Regions from separate parts of the Homo sapiens genome. Here region 1 is linked to region 2. The links come from fine-mapping of genetic effects on gene expression. A gene starts in region 2. The other region holds a variant in brackets. All regions are shown on one strand. Distances are between the middles of the regions.

The links. PIP is the estimated chance that this variant, and not a neighbour inherited with it, causes the effect.
Region 1: its variant is fine-mapped to the expression of TMEM220-AS1 in whole blood (TOPMed, PIP above 0.99).

The regions. Positions count from the first base shown.
Region 1 is chr17:10,748,247-10,758,953 of GRCh38, reverse strand. The region is part of intron 1 of TMEM220-AS1 (TMEM220 antisense RNA 1); the gene reads right to left. Among named protein-coding and RNA genes, the nearest start is that of TMEM220, 24 kb to the right of the region's middle. RefSeq lists enhancers at 4,488-4,782, 9,747-10,296. The variant C/T (reference allele first, on the strand shown) is at 6,652.
Region 2 is chr17:10,724,769-10,735,475 of GRCh38, reverse strand. TMEM220-AS1 (TMEM220 antisense RNA 1) reads right to left here and starts at 5,699. Exons shown (of 4, transcript NR_073458.1): 1 at 5,576-5,699. It overlaps TMEM220 (transmembrane protein 220), which reads left to right and starts at 5,453. Exons shown (of 6, transcript NM_001004313.3): 1 at 5,453-5,696; 2 at 6,416-6,445; 3 at 9,212-9,272; 4 at 10,342-10,465. The coding sequence starts at 5,625. RefSeq lists silencers at 1,246-1,431, 5,395-5,634, 5,645-5,814 and enhancers at 4,828-5,414, 5,415-6,001.

The DNA of each region.
Region 1 (10,707 bases), 23 kb before region 2:
AAATCAGTGTACTGGGTCCTTGGCCATCAGGTTTTAAAAGTGATACAGCATATAAACTTAAACTCAGGTCAGTTTTTGTTTATTTGTTTGTTTTGAGACGGTCTCACTCCATTACCCAGGCTGTGCAATGTCACCATCACAGCTGACTGTAGCCTCGACCTCCCAAGCTCAAGCGATCCTCCCACCTCAGCCTCCCCAGTAGCTGGTATTACAGGTACACACCATCACACCCAGCTAATTTTTGTATTTTTTGTAGAGATGGGGTTTCACCATATTGCCCAGGCTGGTCTTGAACTCCTGGGCTCAAGCAATCCTCCCGCCTCAGCCTCCCAAAGTGCTTAGATTACAGGCATAAGCCACCACACTTGGCCTCAGGTCAGTACTGATTCTTCTAAATGTTACTTCTGTTATATAAATAAGTGTACTGTAAAATCAGTTGCAATGTAAAATAAATTTCTTTCATTGGTCAGGGTCACAAATCTGTGAGCTTCTCTGTGCCCTTCCCATACCTGTCCTTTTTGATTAATTTAGCCAAAGCCATTTTCTTACCACCAAAAAAACAAAACAAAACAAACAAAAACAAAAAAAGCCATTTGCTTATTGCCCGGACTAGTGAAAAACCCTGATTGGTAAGCAACGCCCACTCTGTTGACCTTGTGCCTCTGGGTGGTGATTAACGAGCTCAAGTTTCGAAGTGCCCTGCAACTATTTGGTGCTGGACAGGTGTAAAGAATTAGAACCAGACAACATTGCCATCTCCCTTAAGTCCTTAGGATGCCGTTTATTCATTGGCTCACTCAGAAAATCCTTACTGTGAACTTCCAGGGAAGCACCGTGGTGCTAAATTTGGCTATAAAGAGTACAGAGATGAATACTCCATGGTTCTGAAACCACGCACACGCACAACTGTCATCCACAGTCAACTGCAATCTATGATCCCCCTTCACAGATGAGGGAGCATTTGTGTGGATGTGAAAAAGTCAAGGTGGGATTTGGATTGAGATGGGCCAGGAGATAGGAGGAGGACAGTAACCAGGCAGAGGGGACAGGCATGAGCAATGTCCCAGAAGAGGCACCCTTGCTAGACTACTCAGTTGCTGCAAACAGCCTGCCATGCATTCCTCGTGCTCTGGACAAGAGAAACGGGGTGGGGCCAGCTGAGGCCTCCTTGATGGGGGCAGAGGCTTAGCTCAAGGAGGTATGACAATCAGGGCACAGACTTGAGCTGATACATAGCTGGAGCACTTAGGAAGGAATCTGGGGGGCTTAAAAGCTGTCCCATTAAAGGAAGGGGAACAGAGTAGACTTGTGACTCAAAAATAGGTATTGAATGTCTTGTCTTCAAAGCCCCCTCAAACCACACCAGCAGGACTGGGTTAGAGCCTCCTCTGTGTCACCCCTGTGCTTCCCCAAGGGTAATTATCCCTTCCTTGCTTGTTTTCCCCAAACTCTGAAAATCCAAGAGGACAAGAACAGTATCTTGTTCACTGTGCCTTTTACATGGTGCCTTGGGTTCAGCAGATGCTCCATAAATGTCAAATGAATGAAAGAACCAGCCCAACGTCCCTCTTCCCCAGTCCTCCCCTTGACATATCAGACCCAAATGCTATGTACACTTCCACTCTGCCTCAGAATCTACCCGCTTGGTTCCTTCTCCCTGGGGCTGTGTGCGGAGCTCTTGTTTACCCTGTAGATAAGCAGAGCCCAGGTCTGGTCAAAGGGAGGTGACCACATGGCCGTGAACCAGGCAGTGGTGGAAAATCCCAGCCTGGCCCCAGGCTGCCGGGCCCAATGCCACCCCCAACCCCCTTCCCAGCATAGGAAACTCCTGGGGATAGAAGACGCCCTTTATTTAGCTTCAGCCTGGAGGACTACCCTTCCTTTGGATGGAAGAGAGTGGGTGGGCCCACCTGCCCCGGTCCTTCTACCACATCACATTCTACCAGACCCCTTCAGGGTCTGAAAGGGGTCGGTAGACTTTTTCTGAAAAGAGCCAGATAGTGAATGTCTCAGACTTTGCAGACCAGATGGCCTCTGTCGCAACTACTCAGTTCCACCCTTGTAGCAAGAAAGCAGCAGAAAGAAGATGACAATGAATGGGTGGGGCTGTGTGTTCCAGTGAGCCCTTATTTATAAAAACAGGTGGCTGGCCTGATTTGGCTTGAGGACAGTAATTTAGAACTTGGCCTTGCCAAGTCCCCACAGAGTCCACTCCACCCCCAGGACAAAGAGTTCTAGAGCAGTGGTTCTCAATGTTGGGGTGATTTTGCCCCCATAGGAGATATCTGGCCAGGTTTGGAGACATTTCTGGTTGTGGCATGTGGAGGAGGGTTACTACTGGCATCTGGTGGGTAGAGGCCAGGGATGCTGCCCAACATCCTACAGTGCACAGGACAGGGCACACAACAAGGAATTATCCAGCCCAGCATGTCCATAGTGCCTGGATTGAAACACCCTTCTCTAAAGCAGTGGCTCTCAGAGTGGGTCATTATCATCTGGGAAATTGTTAGAATTGCAAATCATCTACTCCTCCCCTGCACTGAATAGGAAACCCTGGGGGTGGGGCCCAGCAATGTGTGTTTTGACAGGCCTTCCAGGTGACTCTGATGCTTGCTAAAGCTTGAGAACACTGCTGAAAGAGACCAAGGGGGCCGAAGGAGAGGGAGGGAAGGAAGGCAGGACTGGCAAACTCAGAACTCCCACCATATGCCAGGTTCTAAGCCACAGAGGGGCCTCCAGGGCAGTGAGACATTGACTATTAGGAGACACAGAGAGAAGACTCAAGGTGGCAGCAGGTGGGGTGGAGGAGCATGGAGGGGGCCAACCCCAGACACAGGGCCCAGGCGAGGCTCCCAGGATGAGAAGGGCTCAGCTAAGCCTAGAGGACAGCAGTCTGGGTAGGGAGAACAAGGTGATATAGAAAGGCAGGGAAACCCGAGAGAGAGACAGAGAGAGAGAGAGAGAGAGAGAGGAAGGGAAAGAGGGGGAAGAAAGGAAAAGGAGGGGGGAGGGGGACAGAGAAAGGGAGAGAGAGAGAAAGAAAAAGGGTAGAGAGGAAGAGAGAGAAAGGGAGAAAGAGAGGGAGAAAGGGGAGAGGGAGAGAGAGGAGGAGGAAGGGTAAGAGAGAGGGAGGGAGAAAGGAAAAAAGAGAGGGCGAGAAGAAGAGAAAGGGAGGGAGAAAGAGAGGAAGGGGGAGAGGATAGAGAGGAAGAGAGAAAGGGAGAGAGGGAGGAAAAGGAAGAGGGGGAAAAAGAGAAGAAGGAAGAGAAAGAGACAGAGGAGGAGGGAGTAGAGAGGGAGAGAGAAAAAGGGAGAGAGGGAGGGAGGGAGAGTGAGGGAGAGAGGGAGAGAGCCCTCTGGGAAACTGTAAGATGTTCAGCAGCCTCTAAGAGGCAGGGTTGCGGGATGGGAGGTGGAGTGAAGCCAGACAGAGTGACAACAGCCAGGACAGAGGGGCCCTGTTGTTGGCCAAGCAGCCCACAATGGTTCTCAGCCCCTACTCAACCCATGAATCACCTGGGGAGCTTTAAAAAAAGTAGCCAATGCCCTAGTCTCATTGAAGATCCGCTGAGTCAGAAAGGCGACTGGGAGACCCGCAGGGCGGCATTCAGATGTTCTTAAAGCTCCCAGGTAATTCTTCTGGGCTGCCAGGGTGGAGAGCGCCTGAGCTGTAGCTGAGGGAAGAGGGGAGACATTCGCTCTATTTCCTTTGATTCCTGAGGCACTCCATTTTATAAATAAGAAAATCAAGGCTCAGAGAAACTAAGTGACCTTTGCAAAATCACAGAGCAAGTCGGTGATGGGACCAAGATCTCAGAGACGCGAGACACAAAGATCCCGCGGCAGGCAGGAAGAGCCCAGCAGAGCTCCTTTATCCAGCTAGGGGAGGGGCTTAGTGATACTGCGGTGTTGGACAGCAGAAAGATGATGGAGGAAGGCTCAGAGGATCTTGACTTATATCCAACCAAGGAGTGAACAGCATGGGCTTGCAGAGGCCTGGGCTTCCCAGTCAGTGGCCTTTCGGGACTCCTCTCCCCAGTGGCACAAAATGGGCTCTGCATCCACTCCTTCCCCCTAGCCTCTCTCTACAGGCTGGACCCAGGCACGCTTCACTTTTTGGTGAGGTAGGTTGTTTTGCTATGACAAATGCTTCCCTGGATGATGACAGCTAAGGGGCTGTTGGAAGCTCTTTGCGGTTTGCAAAGCGATTTCATTCAACATTAAGAGGCCTCCCATGTGCTGGCTCTGGGCTCAGATGTGGATTATACAGGTGGTCAGTTTTCCAGTGTAAGAGATGAGAATGTAATGAGATAACAATGTGAGCAAGGGTAGCCCCAGGTGTTCCAAAGGGTACCGGTAGATGAGGAAGAGGAGCCAGCTTTCTGAGTGCACGCAGACTCAGAAAGATGCTGGGAGGAGGGACAGCTTGAGAAAGGAAGAGCAGGGCCCCCAGATGGAAGAGGAGGAAGGGGAAGAAAGGCCTTTTGCATAGTCTTATTTACTTCTCACAACAATCCTGAAATGTAGGGCTGACTATTGTCTCTGTTTTATGGCTGAGAAAACTGAGGCTCAGAGAGGTTATGTAACTTACCCAAGGTCACACAGCAAGGACCTGGCAAAGCTGAGACTCAGGCTCCTCAGGAAGAATCCCACGCCCTCTGCTGGCAGCACGGAAGTGACTAGAAGTCAGAAGGGGACTTGGAGCAAGGCTTTTACCTTAGGGGCCTGCAGAAAAGCAGATAGCCATCCAGTTACTGCAGTAGCCAGAATATCTCCAGCATCCTTCTCCACACCTCCCTTCCCCATCTTAAATTTTATAATTTCTCCTTCAGAGGAAAATCAGCCAACGGAGGCAATTATTCTAAGTTTCAAATAGACATAACCCTGGGAGGTGAGAATTCTTTTTTTTCTTTCTTTCTTTGAGACGGAGTCTCACTCTATCACCCAGGCTGGAGTGCAGTGGCCTGATCTCGGACACTGCAAGCTCCGCCTCCTGGGTTCATGCCATTCTCCTGCCTCAGCCTCCCAAGTAGCTGGGACTACAGGCGCCCGCCATCACGCCCAGCTAATTTTTTGTATTTTGTTTAGTAGAGACGGGGTTTCACCATGTTAGCCAGGATGGTCTCGATCTCCTGACCTCATGATCCGCCCGCCCTGGCCTCCCAAAGTGCTGAGATTACAGGCGTGAGCCACCGTGCCCAGCCAAGAATTCTTGTATAAGTCTTTTCTTCGTGAGGGACTTCACAGGGGACTCCAAGATAACCACTCCTGTTCTTCTCCCCAGCCCTTGCCTGCCCCTGCTGATATTTTAAACTGGAAAATACTTCTGATTTGAATATTCTCCCTGTGCAAATTTTCTTCCCTGGCATACTTTCTGCTAGATTTCAAGAGGGAACCAAAGATGTGTATCTTTGCAATTTAATTAAAATGTTTTTTGCTCACTGGTTAATAAAGACAAGCTTCACCACGGCTCACACCTTTTTCTGTGAACTTTCCCAGCCATTTGAAGCATCCCCTCAATGGATAACTGGGCTGGGCAGTTATCCAAGAGAGTGGGGGACCTGTGCTGCCAGATATACAGTGGCCAGAGCCCCCAACTGCCTGAATGATGTCAGTACAGGACTCCCTAGTTGGGACCCAAATTAACCAGAAAGGAGGACATGTCGGGTGCGTTAGATGAGCAAATAGTGCAAATGTCATTCGCTCTCTACACAGAAGGAAATTGCCCAAGTAGCTGATGGTTCCCTTAATGGGTGGCTTTGAGATCATGGGAGAGAAAAATGGCAACAGTGAGCAGCCACTGTCTCCCAGGCAGCCCTTCCTGGCCAGCCCCTTGGGGAAAAAAGCACAGACTCCTGGAAACAGCCAAAGTGCCGGGATCTGCACAGTTGCCTGGAACAAAGAGGGTCAGAAAAGAGGTCAGTAGTCAGTGTCCCAAAACACATCCCTCCTGGATGATTTTCTTTATCCAAGCTGACTCACACGCCCTCACCCAGCCCCACCCAACCCCACCCAGCCGCAAACCAGCGAGTCCTTTATGTGGTTCTTAGAGTGCAGGTGTTAGGGAGATAGAGCACCTCAATCGGTCTGAGTGGTCCAGCCAGCCCGAAGTTCAAGTACAGCCTTCGCTTCAGACTTGGTTCTTAAGAGAGCATATTTTCTAGAAAAGCGGAGGAGGAGAAAACGTGAGGCGAGCAACTAGGAGGCAAGTCAGAGAGTGTTTGGAGGCAGCCAGGTGGTCCTAACAGAAAAGGGGGGCAAATCCTCGTGTCATCAAACCCTCTTTGTCTTCAGCACAGGCAATATATTTGGGGCATGTTCTTCACTTCTCAGAGCTCCACATTCTTCTTCCCAAGCTGTACAGGTGCTAAGGGTCTCCCACACCTGAGCACACAATAAAGGCTGCTCCTCCCTTGCTTCATCCTCCTCCATCACAGGTGCCTGGAAATTTCTCCTGCGTGCTTCTGCTTTACAGAAAATTCATATTAGTCCTTAGCTTTCCTGGGAGTGGATGGCTCTCCCAACCCAATAAAAAACTACTGGAGGCCAGGCGCAGTGGCTCACGCCTGTAATCCCAACACTTTGGGAGGCTGACGTGGGCGGATCACCTGAGGTCAGGAGTTCAAGACCAGCCTGGCCAACATGGTGAAA[C/T]GCCATCTCTATAAAAATACAAAAATTAGCTGGGCTTGGTGGCGGGCGACCGTAATCCCAGCTACTCTGGAGGCTGAGGCAGGAGAATCGCTTGAACCTGGGAGGTGGAGGTTGCAGTGAGCCGAGATTGTACCACTGCACTCCAGCCTGGGCAACTGAGTGAGACTCTGTCTCAAAACAAAACAAAACAAAAACTACTGGAGGTCAAGGACTGTGTTTTAAATTCCCCACTGTTGCACAGCATATTCAACCCATATCTCAACCAACTTAATATTCCCAGAGATGGGCTCAATAGATAGACACAGTAGAGATACAAAGTATACCTATTGAATGAATCAGTGAATGAATGAATGAATGTAGCCTCCATGTAGCCTCCTCCCCAGGGTCCTTTCTCTGGGCCTTTGTAGCACAGAGCTCTGAGTAATGGCTCCAGTGGGGTGGGCAGGGGCCAGGCTAAAGTTCTCCAGAGAGAAGGGTCAACAGCACATCCAGGAGCTTCCCAGGGTAAACACTGACACAATGCCCACAGTGAGCACGGAAGACTCTTTTGTCTCATCTGCCCTCTGTCTGTGGTTCATGTGCCCTGGGGCTGCTAGGATGCTGTGCTGTTGCCAGGGAACCACCTCACTGAGCATCCAGGAAAGGAGGACCTACAGTCACCGGGGGTCAGAGGCCCAGTCCTGCTCCCTGCTGCTGAGAGGACCCTGCGGGGATTTGTGATGGGATCAAATGAGCCCTCACCTGGACCATCCCTTGTACTAACTGAGAGCTTTGTCCAGTGCCCAATACAGTTTACGCACGGGATGAAATTAGAAGCCCAGGTTCTCCTAGAAAGAAACAATGGCTGCCAGTCCCTCCCCTCCAGGGAGAGAGAGCAGTGGGTGCTCAGTCCTGTCTAATGAAGAAAGTGATGGCCAGGCCGCAGCCTCAGGGAGGCTGGGAAGTGTTGAGTGGTGTTTGTGCCTTGATGTGTAATCACCAAGGGAAATGGATAAATGATTTTTCCCGCTCCCTTTTCTTCTTTAAATATTTTTTTAAGAGACAGAGTCTTGCTCTGTTGCCCAGGCCACAGTGCAGTGGCATGATGATCATGATTCACTGTAGCCTTAACCTCCTGGGTTCAAGCAGTCCTCCCACCTCGGCCTCCCTAGTAGCTGGGACTATAGGCATGAGCCACCACGTCCAGCTAATTTTTTAATTTTTTGTAGAGATGGGGTCTCACTGTGTTGCCCAGGCTGGTGGTCTTGAACTCCTGGCCTCAAGTGATCCTCCTGCCTCTGCCTCACAAAGTGTTAGGACTGCAGAAGTGAGCCACCATGCCCACCCCCCTCTCCCTTTTTAAAACCACTAATTCTCCACCAGGGGTGATTCTGACTCCCCCTCCTCCCCAGGGTCATTTGGCCACATCTGGAAACATTTTTGATTGCCACTCAATGCTGGTAAGATTATCCAAGTCATGACGAAACGCAAATACCCTTATAAATGATCCCACCACCAGGAATTTGTTTTTTAAATCCTTTCAACAGCCTGAAGTGTGGTCATTATTATCCCGATTTTACAAATGAGGAAACTGAGGCACAAAACGCTGAAGGGGCTTGTCGAAGAGCACGGTTGCAGGTTGGGTTCCCAGAGAAGCAGAACCTGAGACAAAGCTCTGCGTGCAGGACTGCCAGGAAGAGATGGGAAACATGGAGCTGCGATGCCGTCTTAATGAAGATTTCAGTCAACCCTGAGAGGAATTTTGGAGCTGAGCTGACCCTTTGGAGTTATCTCAAGTTGTGTAGAGGGAACCAGGCCTTTATACCCTGGCTTGGATCAGTCCCTGATCACAGGCTGCCCCTGGAAAGAGGCATGACTTTGGGAAGGGCTATTTTTTTCAGGTGAGGTGATCCAGGGCGGACGGCTGAAAGCCACCTCTGGCAGCACTCCCAGAAGCTGGGCAAGTAAGTCCTTCATTCCTGAAGAGGGGTCTGGGTGCATTTCACAGCATCTACCAGTCACCTTACTAATAAGGCCAGAGGTGGAATTGTGTCCAGATCCTCTGCTCACCCCCTTCCCTTTGCCATCAAGTCTCTGTCCTCAGTCTCTGATTTACAAGGGGATCAAGAGGCCCCAGGAAAAGAACTCAAGTAGTCTCCATGACTGGAATTCTAGCTGGACTAGAACTCAGCTGCAGGAGTGAGGGCTGCGCAAGAGAAGCCCAATTGTAGGGCTTGCGACAGTGCAGCTGCAGGGCCCAGAAAGGAAGAGAACTCGCTCCTGGTCACAGAATGGAACCACCCTTTATACCCTCAGACCCCATAGTCTGACTTGGCCCCCTACACTCTTTCCCCTTCCAACCCCTACAGACCCTTGCAGGATGGTTCCATCTCATTGCTGCAGGACTCAGAACCTAGAATTTACATAATCATGGGATTTTCGCACTGGAAGTTAGTAATCTCCAGTGTTTTCCCCTGAGGAGGTGAAACCCAGGTGTGTACCGTGTGTTCTCAATAACACATGAGTAACTCCTCTGGGGACACAAAGCTAGGGTGCCACTGGAACCCAGGTCTCCCAACTCCAAGGTCCTGGCACTGGGCACCACGACATGCTGCTGCAGGCAGCAAGACAGAGAGACAGTACTGCTTTACCGGGCACCACCCTGCCCTTTCCTCTCTGTGCCCAGCCCCCATACTCCGCAAACAGTGCGGAGGTGAAGAGATCCCCTTCGCTCCTGTGCTCTGCTCATTCCTGCTCACTCTCGGGTCTCCTACTCCCTTGGAGGCTTTTTCAGACCCCCTTCCCCAAAGGCTAGGTCAGTTTCCACCCCACTCCTCATTTTATTCTCTCATGACATCCTGTAATAATCCATCACGCATATTACTGTTGTGGTTAGTCAACTACTGCACAATTGCTTAGTCAATGTCTGTCTCATTAGAACATAAGCTCCCATGACTGTGGGACCAGAGCTGTGTTATCCACCAGTGTGCCCTCTACCACCAAGAATGACTGAACTAATGAAGAGTCCATGCTGTCCTGTATGTTCTCCAATTCTTTCATTTCTTAGCCACGGTTGTCCTGACTTCTTAGACAAATGTCAAATGCCTCAAAGGCACAGAATGAGATTTAATGAGTGTCCCCACCTCCTCAGCACCTAGTCCAATGTCAAGCACAGAGTGGCCAATCGCTGATTGATTGATGATTGCTTGCTGCCTGAACCTCCGGAACTCCCCTGCCGAGAAAGGGAGTGAGGGATTCTTGTGCTTCTCCAAAGACTGAAGGGCAGAGGCCTCAGTAATTTCTGGACTGAGCTTAGGCAGAGAGGAGGTAATTAGCTCAAATCACATTAACATGGTTCTCAGGAAATGGCTGCTGAATTAGATATTCCAGCCACAGCAGCCACCTCTATTTAATAGGACATTAATGCTCATTCTGAGCAATTACTGTATTTGCAATGGTTTCTTAATGTTCAGCTTCTGGAGCCCTGAAAGGAAAGGGCTTTGTGCTTCCAGTAACCAGCTCTCCACCGTAAGGCAGAGGAATGAGCTGGGGAAATGCTCCCGGCCAGATCAGGGAGCCAACGCCCCAGACAGTCTGGAGAAGAGGCCAGGGACTCCAGGCTCCTGTGCCTGGCTTCTCCGACCAGCCGATACCCCCAGGGCCTCGCTAAGGGTGGGCCTATACAGGCAGAGGCAGGAAGGTCTCTATGCACAAGTGAGCCTCACTGAACCTTCTCTACTGCTCCCTGCAGTTATGCAGCTGCCTAAAGCCAGTCCCTGCTAAGTGCTCCTAACAGCATCCAGTACCTCTCCCAGCACAATGCTTACCATACTTATCATTTTGATTCTAATAGCATTTCCCCCCTTGATTTTAGAGTAATTAAGGTTCACTGCAAAAATAAAGCAAAGTGTAAAATAAGCCAACAGATCACATCTCTAATGTTTTCCTGTGCATAGGCACACATAAACATATGTAAAGACTGGCTTTAAAACAATGGAGCCAATCCAATCATCCACTCTCTGCTTTGGGACAATGGAGTGACCACTTTGTTTTAATTGCTTACGTAATTATCTGCCT
Region 2 (10,707 bases):
AATGTCACTCATTCGTGCTTCTTTCCCTCCATGGCCACTGCTACCCTGTTAGCCCTGGCCAGCATCATCTCTCTCCTGGCCTACTGCAAGCACCTCATGGCCAGTCTCTGCTTCTTCTCTGGGCTCTCCCCAGTGCATCCTCCTCCACGGGGCAGCCCAAGCACACCTCCCATCATGCTCTCCCCACTCAGTGCTCCAGGGGCTCTTCAGCACACTTGGGATAAAACCAAACTTTTTTTTTTTTTTTTGAGATGGAGTTTCACTCTGTTGCCCAGGCTGGAGTGCAATGGCGTGATCTCGGCTCACTGCAACCTCCGCCTCTTGGGTTCAGGTGATTCTCCTGCCTCAGCCTCCTGAGTAGCTGGGACTATAGGCATGCGCCACTGTGCCTGGCTAATTTTGTATTTTTAGTAGAGATGGGGTTTCACCATGTTGGTCAGGCTGGTCTTGAACTCCTGACCTCAGATGATCCATCTGCCTCGGCCTCCCAAAGTGCTGGGATTACAAGCGTGAGCCACCACACCCAGCCAGGATAAAACCAAACTCTTTACCTGCATTGTGCTAGCCTCATCTATGTCTACTTGTACTCTCATTCTTTGCCAGGCCCTGAAGACCTTCAGGATTTGGTCTTCTCATAAGCACTTCTCTCTCGGCTTTAAGCACTGGTCCATAAAGTCTTCACCTGTCCTCACCCATTCATCTTTCAGGGCACACCTGAAAATCACCTCCTCAGGAGGTTTCTGGAACCCCTGGGAAGAGGTCAGATTCTCTGGTTTCACACATTCCCATAGCAGCCTCACTTCTCCTTCTCAGCATCACCACCATTGTTGGCTGGAACCCCTACCTATTCGTGTAATTATTGTTTGGCCTGTAAGCTCTACAAGGGCAAACACCGTGTCCCGTGAGGTCACAGTCACATCCTCAGTTATTAGCATAGTGCCTGACACGTAGGAAGTCTTGAATAAATGGACAGAATAAATGGATAGAATAAATGGCTCACTGAGTGTTTCATGCCAATGAATAGGGTGGATATAAATACACGCAGAGGGTTCATTTAACCATATTCTCCTTTCAGTGGCATAAGGGGATATTTGAGGAACATTATTCAAGCCAAGTGTTTTTCATTGTCCATCAATATGCGTAAGCTTTAAGACTTTCATAACACGGGCTATATTTTGCTAACAGTAGAAACCCAAGTCCTTCATAGAGACTAGATGGGTTTTGTAGAAGCAAATCAATCCTTGCCGTGGCGAGGTGCTTTTCTGATTTCAAATATTTTAGCAGAAGGCTGTCTAGCTCCTAGTAGAATTCGTCCACTGCTCCTAGTAGAATTCCTCCACTGTTCTGTTCCAACCCTTTCCTGCCCCAACACTTCATTCACATGGAATCAGCAGAGCCTGGAGACAGCATGGCTTGGCCTTTGCTGATCTGGTGTGCTGGACAGAGGGAGGTAGACGGCATGGGCAGCAGTTTCTGATCCTTGTAATCCTTGTTCCCAATATGTCACCTTGGGAGCATCACCAGCACACACACACTCTGGACATAGAGCACAGGCAGGAGCCACTCACTGGTGATGACCCTGTTTCAGACTTTGTCCGGCCTCCACCCCTGCCACATTCCGGAGTAGCTGACCACACCTGGAAGGACAGATAATGGAGACTACTAAAAGGAAAACAAGTCTATAAAAGAGAATGGCATGGGCATTCCATTGATACACACTTTGAAATGCACCTGGCTCAGAGAGCCACATGTTCTCCACTCTGTAGGCCAGCTAGGTGGGAAGCCAAAGTCTCCAAAATTGGCCTTCTGGAATCACAGCAAGGGGAGGGTTGAGCCTGTGAAATTTTCAACCCACATAAGCCCCAAAGAGGTTGGCCCGACCAAGAAATGTGAGTGTCCACATCTGGTGGAGCAAAGCACTCTCTCCAGTCTGTGTGAGGATGGACTTGGTCTACGCTTGCCTTTCAGATGACCTAACTTGAAGCCTCCAAGCCCATCAATCCTCCTTTGCTGACATTCTTCTTTTACGTACTTTCATGCATTCATTTTCTCTCTCTCAATCCTGTGACCCTGGGAGGCCATTTGTGTCTTTATATGAGCTTCCTGTCTCTGCTCCAACTCTTAGCATTGGATTAACAACCCTACTCTCAGGGAATAAGCAAGCACCTCTATTTCCAAGTTCTCAGAGGGCAGATGTCCAGCCATTCTCGGATTCCAGCGGGGAAGTGAGTCCAGCTCACCTCACTCCTGTGGCTCAATTGCTTTTATGATGCTGTCACTGACTGGGCAGCCAGGGAGTGTCCAGCAGGATGAAGGGTCCTTTGTGCTGCCCTTTCTGCAGAGGGAAGCCAGCTTTGACAAGACCCTACTGCCTTTAAAACCTCATCTTCTCTGCAGTATTGTATCATAGCCTTTTGCTAAAAAGGGAAATGAAATTACTCTTCAAGCAGAGCTGTCTGAGATATTGGATTCATTTAAACGTATTTTTCATTACTTTTCAGACTAAGCCTTCTCTTCCGTGTCTCTGCAAAGCCTGGACAAACCTATAGCAGGAGGTTTGCAAGGATTTCACACATTGCCTTAACTATTGAATCATGACTTTACAAGTCATCATTCTTTGTTGCAAATTACAAAAACCCAATTCACACGGGCTTATGTAAAGAAGAGACTCTGTTGGTTGTGAGATTCTTCCATTTTCAGGCATGGCTGGATCCAGGCTTTTAAACTTCACCTGCAGAAAGCCTTTCTCCCTGTGAGGCTTTCTCCTGACAGCTCCAGGCTCACATTCTACCAGCTCTACACATTCATCACAAAGAAAGCTTCTCTTTAATAGTGTGAGTAGGATTGCCAGATTTAGCAAATATTTGGAACACATCATTGATGATCCAAAATTCAGTTCAACTGAGGTTGTCCTTTACTGACAACCTAAGTCCCATATAGGTCCTAGGATTGAATCTGGGCAATTTGGATCCTATACCCATCCTAGACCCAATCACAGTGGTCAACAGAATGGGATATGTCAGCTGGCAGGCCAAAGTCACCTGCCTATCCCCAAAAGGAGGGGAGCACGGTCAACCCTGTAGTCCACATCCACCCATAGTGCATGTGGTAATCCACAGTACTAAAGACACTGATCCTCGAAGAAAGGGGACTGAACCCTGCAAAGGCAAAACCAACAGACGCTCACTAAGGTGACTTTGAAAGTCCCAGCCGGGTGCAGTGGCTCATGCCTGTAATCCCAGCACTGTGGGAGGCCGAGGCAGGCAGATCATGAGGTCAGGAATTCGAGACCAGCCTGGCCAATATGGTGAAACTCCATCTCTACTAAAAAAAATACAAAAATTAGCCCAGCATGGTGGTGGGCGCCTGTAGTCCCAGCTACTCTGGAGGCTGAGGCAGGAGAATCACTTGAACCCAGGAGGCAGAGGTTGCAGTGAGCTGAGATCGTGCCACTGCACTCCAGCCTGGGCAACAGAGCAAGACTTTGTCTCAAAAAAATAGAAATAAAAAAAGAAAGTCCCAGACAACAGTGAAAACTATAAAACTTCATGGTGGTTGTATGGCATTCAAGAGCTTAAAAGCACTTCCATGCCATTGTTTCCTTGTGGGTATTATAATCATTCCCTGTATTAATTTGCTAGGACTGTCCCAACAAAGTACCACAGTCTAGGTGGCTTAAACAACGGAAATTTATTTTCTCACAGTTCTGGAGGCTGGAAGTCCAAATTCAGGATGTTGGTAGGGTTGGTTTCTCATGAGGCCTCTCCCCTTGGCTTGCAGACGGCCGTCTTCTCCCTGTGTGCCCATGTGGTCTTCCCTCTGTAACTGTCCCCTCTTCGTATCAGGACACTAGTCATATTGGATTAGGGTCCACCCTATAACCTCATTTTAACTTAATCATCTCTGTCAAGTCCCTGTCTGCAAATGCAGTCCCATTTTGAGGCACTGGGGGTTAGGGCTTCAGCATATGAATTGGGGGTGCAGGGGGAATGCAAGTCAGCCCCTAGCACTCTCGCTCTCATTTTTTTCTTTTATGTAAGGAAAAGCACAGTGAGAATAGTCTTCGCTTGTTTCCAATCCCAGGGCTGATTTAGCTGTGGAACTCCACCCAGTGCTGGTCCCCGCTGTCCCCACCCCACCTCTGCAAACACGGGTGCCCACCCCCGCCAGCCGCCAGGCTCCCTGCCTAGTCCCGGCACGGGACCTTCACGGTCCCAGCACCAGGCACAGAGCAGACAACGTTCTTGAAATAAGTGTTTCGTGAAAAGAATGAAACTGAGAGGGAAAGAAAAAAAAAACTAGACAGTTTTAGGAGATTTAGCTCAAAGGAAAAGAGGACAGGCACAGAAGCTCCTGATTTGAAGCGATAAAGACTCTTTAGAACAGCAGAAATGAGGCCTATGGATGTGTAAATGAGCCCGGGGAGGAACTAAGCAGAAGGGCGAATTACAAAACAGAAAAAGACCAGACAGACTAGGGGAGAACAGTGAATATTTCAGTGTCTTCGGTTCATAAGAAATTCATGAGCAATTTTGGAAATTTTGTTGGTTTTGGTGGTGGGAGAGAATTGTAAATATGTATAATATGTAAATATCTTTTATAATAAAAGCCCATGAAGATAAATGAGCCTGTCTGCCGAAAAGCTGTGAGCCGTATAAGATGTTAATATAACTGTCGTCACTCTAGAAATTACCATAATGCTTACAGGGATTTGAAAGTTCCTGAGCTTTGGAAGGAAATGCATAAATACTAAACAGAACACACACACACACACACACACACACACACACACACACACACACATCTCTTTTTCTTTCTCTTTCTTATTTTTGTAAAAACAATTTTTATCCTTTTTTTTTTGAGGAGTCTCGCTTTGTTGCCCAGGCTGGAGTGCAGTGGCACAATCTGGGCTCACTGCAACCTCCGCCGCCCGGGTTCAAGCAATTCTCCTGCCTCAGCCTCCTGAGTAGCTGGGATTACAGGCTCCCGCCACCACGCCCGACTAATTTTTTCGTATTTTTAGTAGAGATACGGGGTTTCACCATGTTGGCCAGGCTGCTTTCGAACTCCTGACCTCAGGTGATCCGCCCACCTCGGCCTCCCACAGTGCTGGGATTACAGGCGTGAGCCACTGCGCCCAGCCCTTTCTTTCCTTCTTTCTTTTTCTTTCTTTCTCTTTCTTCCTCTCTCCCCTCCCGCCTGCCTTCCTTCCTTTTTTCCTTCTTTTTTTTCTTTCTTCTTTTTTTTTTTTTTTGTGAGGAAGGTAGCTTTAGTGAAAACAGGGTTTGGAGTTGAACCTATACGGGTTCAAATTCGACTTCCGTCCACCACCGAGACCTGCGCTCCCTGAGGGACTCGCTTTCCCATCCGCGAAACCAGGACGGCGCCGCCTACACCCCGCGGCGTTCGGGGCGGGCTGAATGGGTCGCTGAGTGGGGGCTACACCCACGCCCTTCGCTCCCCGCCCCCGGGCGGAGCGACGGCCACGGCAGTGTCCCCAAGGCACCGAAACCGAGGCGGGGGTCTCGGTCCCTCCGCGCAAGGAGGAAGGCGGACCGTACGTGGCAGGACTCACCGCCCCGCACGTGGCAGGACTCACCGCCCCGCGCCGTGTTCTCCGAGCCATGGCGCCAGCGCTGTGGCGGGCCTGCAACGGACTCATGGCCGCCTTCTTCGCGCTGGCGGCCTTGGTGCAGGTCAGGCGGCCGCGGTGGGAGGGGGACCCGCCCGGCTCCCAGCTCCGCCCCCTGGCCTAGCGGGCCGTGTAACTGACTAGCGGGCAGAGTCGCAGGGGCGCACAGTTAGTGGGGAGGACGGGACTTGGGCTTTCTGCTTGGGGAGCCCCCACTTTCTCCCCCGTCTAAGAGACGCGGATGTGTTCATGGAAGCGAGTCCCATACCAGGGCTCACACCCTGGAAGGGGCTGGTTCCGCGCGTGGAACTTCCCAGGGGACCTCAGAAGAAGCGGCCCTGGCTCCTGCGTTAACGTCCGGCCCGCGGACGACACTGAACATATCTCAGGGCCTAGGAGACGAAGCCGACCAAAACCCTTTATAGCATCATTAAACTTTTTAGTCGGCTTGGGGACCCCCTTCATAATCATTTCCCTCATTTCTTGAGACTGGTGGGGGTGGAGGGCCCTTAAAATACCCGTTCTGGGTTGGCGAGTCCTCTCCAGAGCTCCCGTGAAGGCTTTTCAAAAATGTGTGGCTGCCTGTTAAAAACATCTGTTGTGTCAGCCAGAAACCCCTTCACCCGTCCTCATCTGGACTATATCCTGTTCAGATTTTGTACCCTCGATGCCTATTGCAGTGTCTGGCACTTAACAAATTAATAAAAAATGTGCTTAAATGAATTTAAAAGGAATGGAACAGCACAGGATGTCTGCTAACACCTTGGTATTCTGGCGTTCCAGGTAAATGACCCAGATGCAGAGGTGTGGGTGGTGAGTATGAGCCGCTTCCAGGCTTTCCTCCGTTTGGAAGAATTGGGGAACGGCACAAAACACACGGTTTTATGTCTTTACCCCTCCTCCCTGCTTAATTTTCTGAGAAACTTAAAAATCAAACCCTTGGGAAGCGCTTTTTCCTAAAATATTAATAGGCAGGATCAGAGTTCTAATGTAATGTGTGTGTGAATTTCGAACTTTCTGGAAACAGGTCTTTCTGCAGTATTCCCTTTGGTTAGATGGCCCAACTGAGGACTTTCTTGAGGACCTAGAGTAGGCCTCTCAAGATCAGTTGAACAATTCCTTATGAGTTTCTAGCCAGACACTCAATGCAAACCTTTGACCGGAAAATAACAGGCTTAAGTTCTGAGGTTCTGCTAATTCAGTGACTTATATTTCTAGAAAGTATTAACTCCTGGCTGGGCAAGGTGGCTCACGCCTGCAATCTCAGCACTCTGGGAGGCCAAGGCGGGTGGATCACTTGAGGTCAGGAGTTCTAGATCAGCCTGAGCAACATGGTGAAACCCCGTCTCCACCAAAAAATACAAAAATTAGCCAGGCGTGGTGGCATGCGCCTGTAGTCCCCAGCTACTAGGGAAGCTGAAGCAGGAGACTCGCTGGAACCCAGGAGGCAGAAGTTGCAGTGTGCTGAGATCGTGCCACTGCACTCCAGTCTGGGCGACAGAGTGAGACTCCATCTCAAAAAAAAAAAAGCAAAGAAAAAAAAGAAAAAAAAAAAGCAAAGAAAAGTATTAAATCCTGTAAAACCTACAGTCTTCATATAAGCAAGGCTCTGATTTGAACCATTTGGAGGAGGGGGCCATTGTTCCATACATCTTCTAAATATCTTTTTTTTTTTTTCTTTTTGAGACGGAGTTTTGCTCTTGTTGCCCAGGCTGGAGTGCAATGGCGCAATCTAGGCTCACCGCAACCTCTACCTCCCAGGTTTGAGTGATTCTTCTGCCTCAGTGTCCCAAGTAACTGGGATTACAGGCATGCGCCACCACACCCAGCTAATTTTGTATTTTTAGTAGAGACAGGGTTTCTCCATGTTGGTCAAGCTGGTCTTGAACTCTCGACCTCAGGTGATCCACCTGCCTCAGCCTCCCAAAGTGCTGGGATTACAGACATGAGTCACCGCGCCCGGCTCTAAATATCTTTTATCTTCCAAAATATCTGAATTTTGCCCAGTTTCTCTCAATATAGATACACAAGACTGTACAGTACACCAAGGAGATGACTCTTAAGCTTTAGAATAATATTGACAGAGGAGCAACAAGGATGATGGTATCTGGAATTATAACATGAAATTCTATCCAGGTTTTGTTTTTTTAGTGCAGTAAAACCACATTCTGATATTTACTATCCAGATCAGTATGCCTCTGAATCAAATCAAACTGCCTTTGCCTTGGCACCCTGGTCCGTATCTTGAATTCCAAATATTATTTCCCTGCAGACAAGTCTCAGACATCCAGCTTAATGGTGAATTTCCAAAAGACTGCTGCGTATATTCACCTGCATGTCACACTGCTCCTCAGATATGCCCAAGGACCTACCTAGCATCTTTCCCTCCAAAATCTACTTATCCTGACTCACCCATTTCTGTTATCAGCAGAATCATTCTCTGAGTCATTCTTGTTCAGAATCTCAGTCATCTTTATCATCTCTCTGTTCCTTACCACTGCCTTGGAGAGCCCCTCAAAACACAAAATAAATTTGAGTCGGGCATGGTGGCAGGCATCCGTAGTCCCAGTTACTCAAGAGGCTGAGGCAGGAGGCTCACTTGAGCCCAGGAGTTCGAGGCCAGCCTGTGCAACATAGCGAGACCCCCCCCATCTCCAAAAAATTAATTAAACAATCGAGGTCTAATTGCTTATCTCTATAGTACCTGCACATTTTACCTTTCATTCATGCTCAGACGATATAATAGGAGGAATAGACCCCATGTCCCCATAGACATCCTCCCTCATTCACAGTTCAGCCCTCCACTACCTCCCACATGGACCCCTGGCACCTGCCTTAACATCTTCTGATATAAGCACAGAAATTGATGTGATTAGACAGCTACATTGTTTGGAAAGTCCCCATCCTTCTTATAAACCCACCCTCCCTACTTATTCCCTGCCAACAACACACACAATAGTAAGTTTGGCTAGAGCCTGCTTGTTATGAACAAGGCTTAGGAATAGGGCCTCTTTAGGGCTAGTCTTCTCATTTCCAAACACTTATCAGCAGTTCCAAAATGAAGAGCCTGACCTTATTACTGGGCACAGCTGATTGTGTATGCATTATTAGAAAACTTTCTGTGGTCTCACAGAGATGCAGTACTGGCCTGGATGGTCCATTGGGTCCAAAGCCAGCAGGGCCATCTAGCATCGTGGCTGCTCCTGCCCTACTTTTCAAAGAACATTTTCTTTTATGCAAGTGGGGAAAGGCCATTTGGGCATGAAAGTTGCTTGGGAGCGACTGGAAAGTTAGTGTGTCTTAAGACCAAAACCCTGTGCTCAGTGTTAGAGCTCAAAGATAAATGAGCTTCTGGAATAGCCTATAGTCTAGGAGGAAGGTAGATAAAATTGCAGGCAGACGTGCTAAGTGCCACAAAAGGAGAATCTACCACTTTCTCAATCACCATTGAAACTTAGAGGCAAATCATGGGGCACAGCAGCCACTGATCTCATCTTTCTTTACTTCCTGTATCTCTGAACATCTCATATATTGGGCATACATCTTAACTCATGTAATTTCCTCCCTTTTTGCTAACAGGTGGTGTACACAATCCCTGCAGTACTGACCCTGCTTGTTGGACTTAACCCTGAAGTCACAGGTATAAGCCTTGCATTCTAAATGGAGAGACAGCAAATCAGATTTCCTCATAATAATGAGGGTCTATCTGCCCAACTCCCAGGAGTAAAACGGGGCTCTCTAGGCCTTTCTTCTCATTTCTGATAATAAAAGGGGCTAATTCTAATCATCCTTACCCATCTTCAGGAAAACGTCAGAAGGATCTGCTATAAAACAGCGTCTTCTGTTTTATAGAAGTGAGAGGACAGATTCTTCTTCACTTTCTTTAAAACAGTTTCTCCTAGTGGGGCTCGAATGTTCTCAGGGGCCTTAGAATAAAGACTAATGAGTCCCACCTTAGTGGGGAAAATTCTAGTTCCCTAGATGCCTGGGCTCCTTGTATAGGCAGCTAGAACTCCGTCTGCATCTTTAAGGTAGATCAGTTAGGGCTCCTTTAGATACAAGCTAGAAAATAACTCAAATGTGCTATGAGCTGAGAAGAAAAGGTATTGGTACAGTTTACTGAAAAGGTGAAGGGTGGTGCTGGCTTCAGACTGGTGGACTCGGAACTTTACCTTCTCTCCACCTCTCAGTTCCACCATCTGTCATGCTAACTTCACTCTTGGGCTCCACACAGTGGCCCTGCAGCCCCCCATTCACATCTTCACGATGCCACGTCCAGTGGAATATGGACTGTGTTTCTTCACTCTACCAAAGTCTCAGAATGCAGTTGCTGGCTCTGATTGCTTGTCCGTTTGTGCTGATCCAAATCACTGTGGCTGAGGAGATAACATGTATTGATTGACCTAGCCAAAGTCCAGTTCACTGGGAAACATGGACTGTGAGTGTGGACATGGTGGATCCCCAGAGAAAATAAGGGTAATCATCCTAGGAAGGGGAGCTGCTGAACAACCCAAACAAGAAATGGCCACTGAAGTTTATAATTAGTGCTGTGACCTCTGTGTTGTCCTAAAACAAAAAGGGGCGATGGGGCTGAGGGAGTCTGAATGTCTTTTCTGAAAGCAGACTATGGCAAAACATACAAAAAGATCATTTTTTTTTTCTGTGGGCTGTGATTCCGTGGTTAACAACATCAGAACATCTATTTTTAGGTAATGTTATTTGGAAAAGTATCTCTGCAATACACATACTCTTTTGTACGGTGTGGGCTGTTGGCTTGGCGTCCTACCTCTTGCATCGTACACAACAGAACATCTTACATGAGGAAGAAGGCAGGTGAGCGGTGACGGTTACCCTGTGGAGGGATAGAACTGTGGGATAGAACTAAGGAATCGTGTTTGCAACACCTCATCTGTGCACAATGATAACTGAATTCCCCCAGTGTACCCTGTGGAGGAGGCAAGGTATTATCTTCTTTATAACCTGATGAAACTGAGGAAATAATGGAGCCAGGATTCAAACCCAGCCCCATCTATCAGGCTTCATTATCACTGCTAGTGGCAGTCACTACATATTAC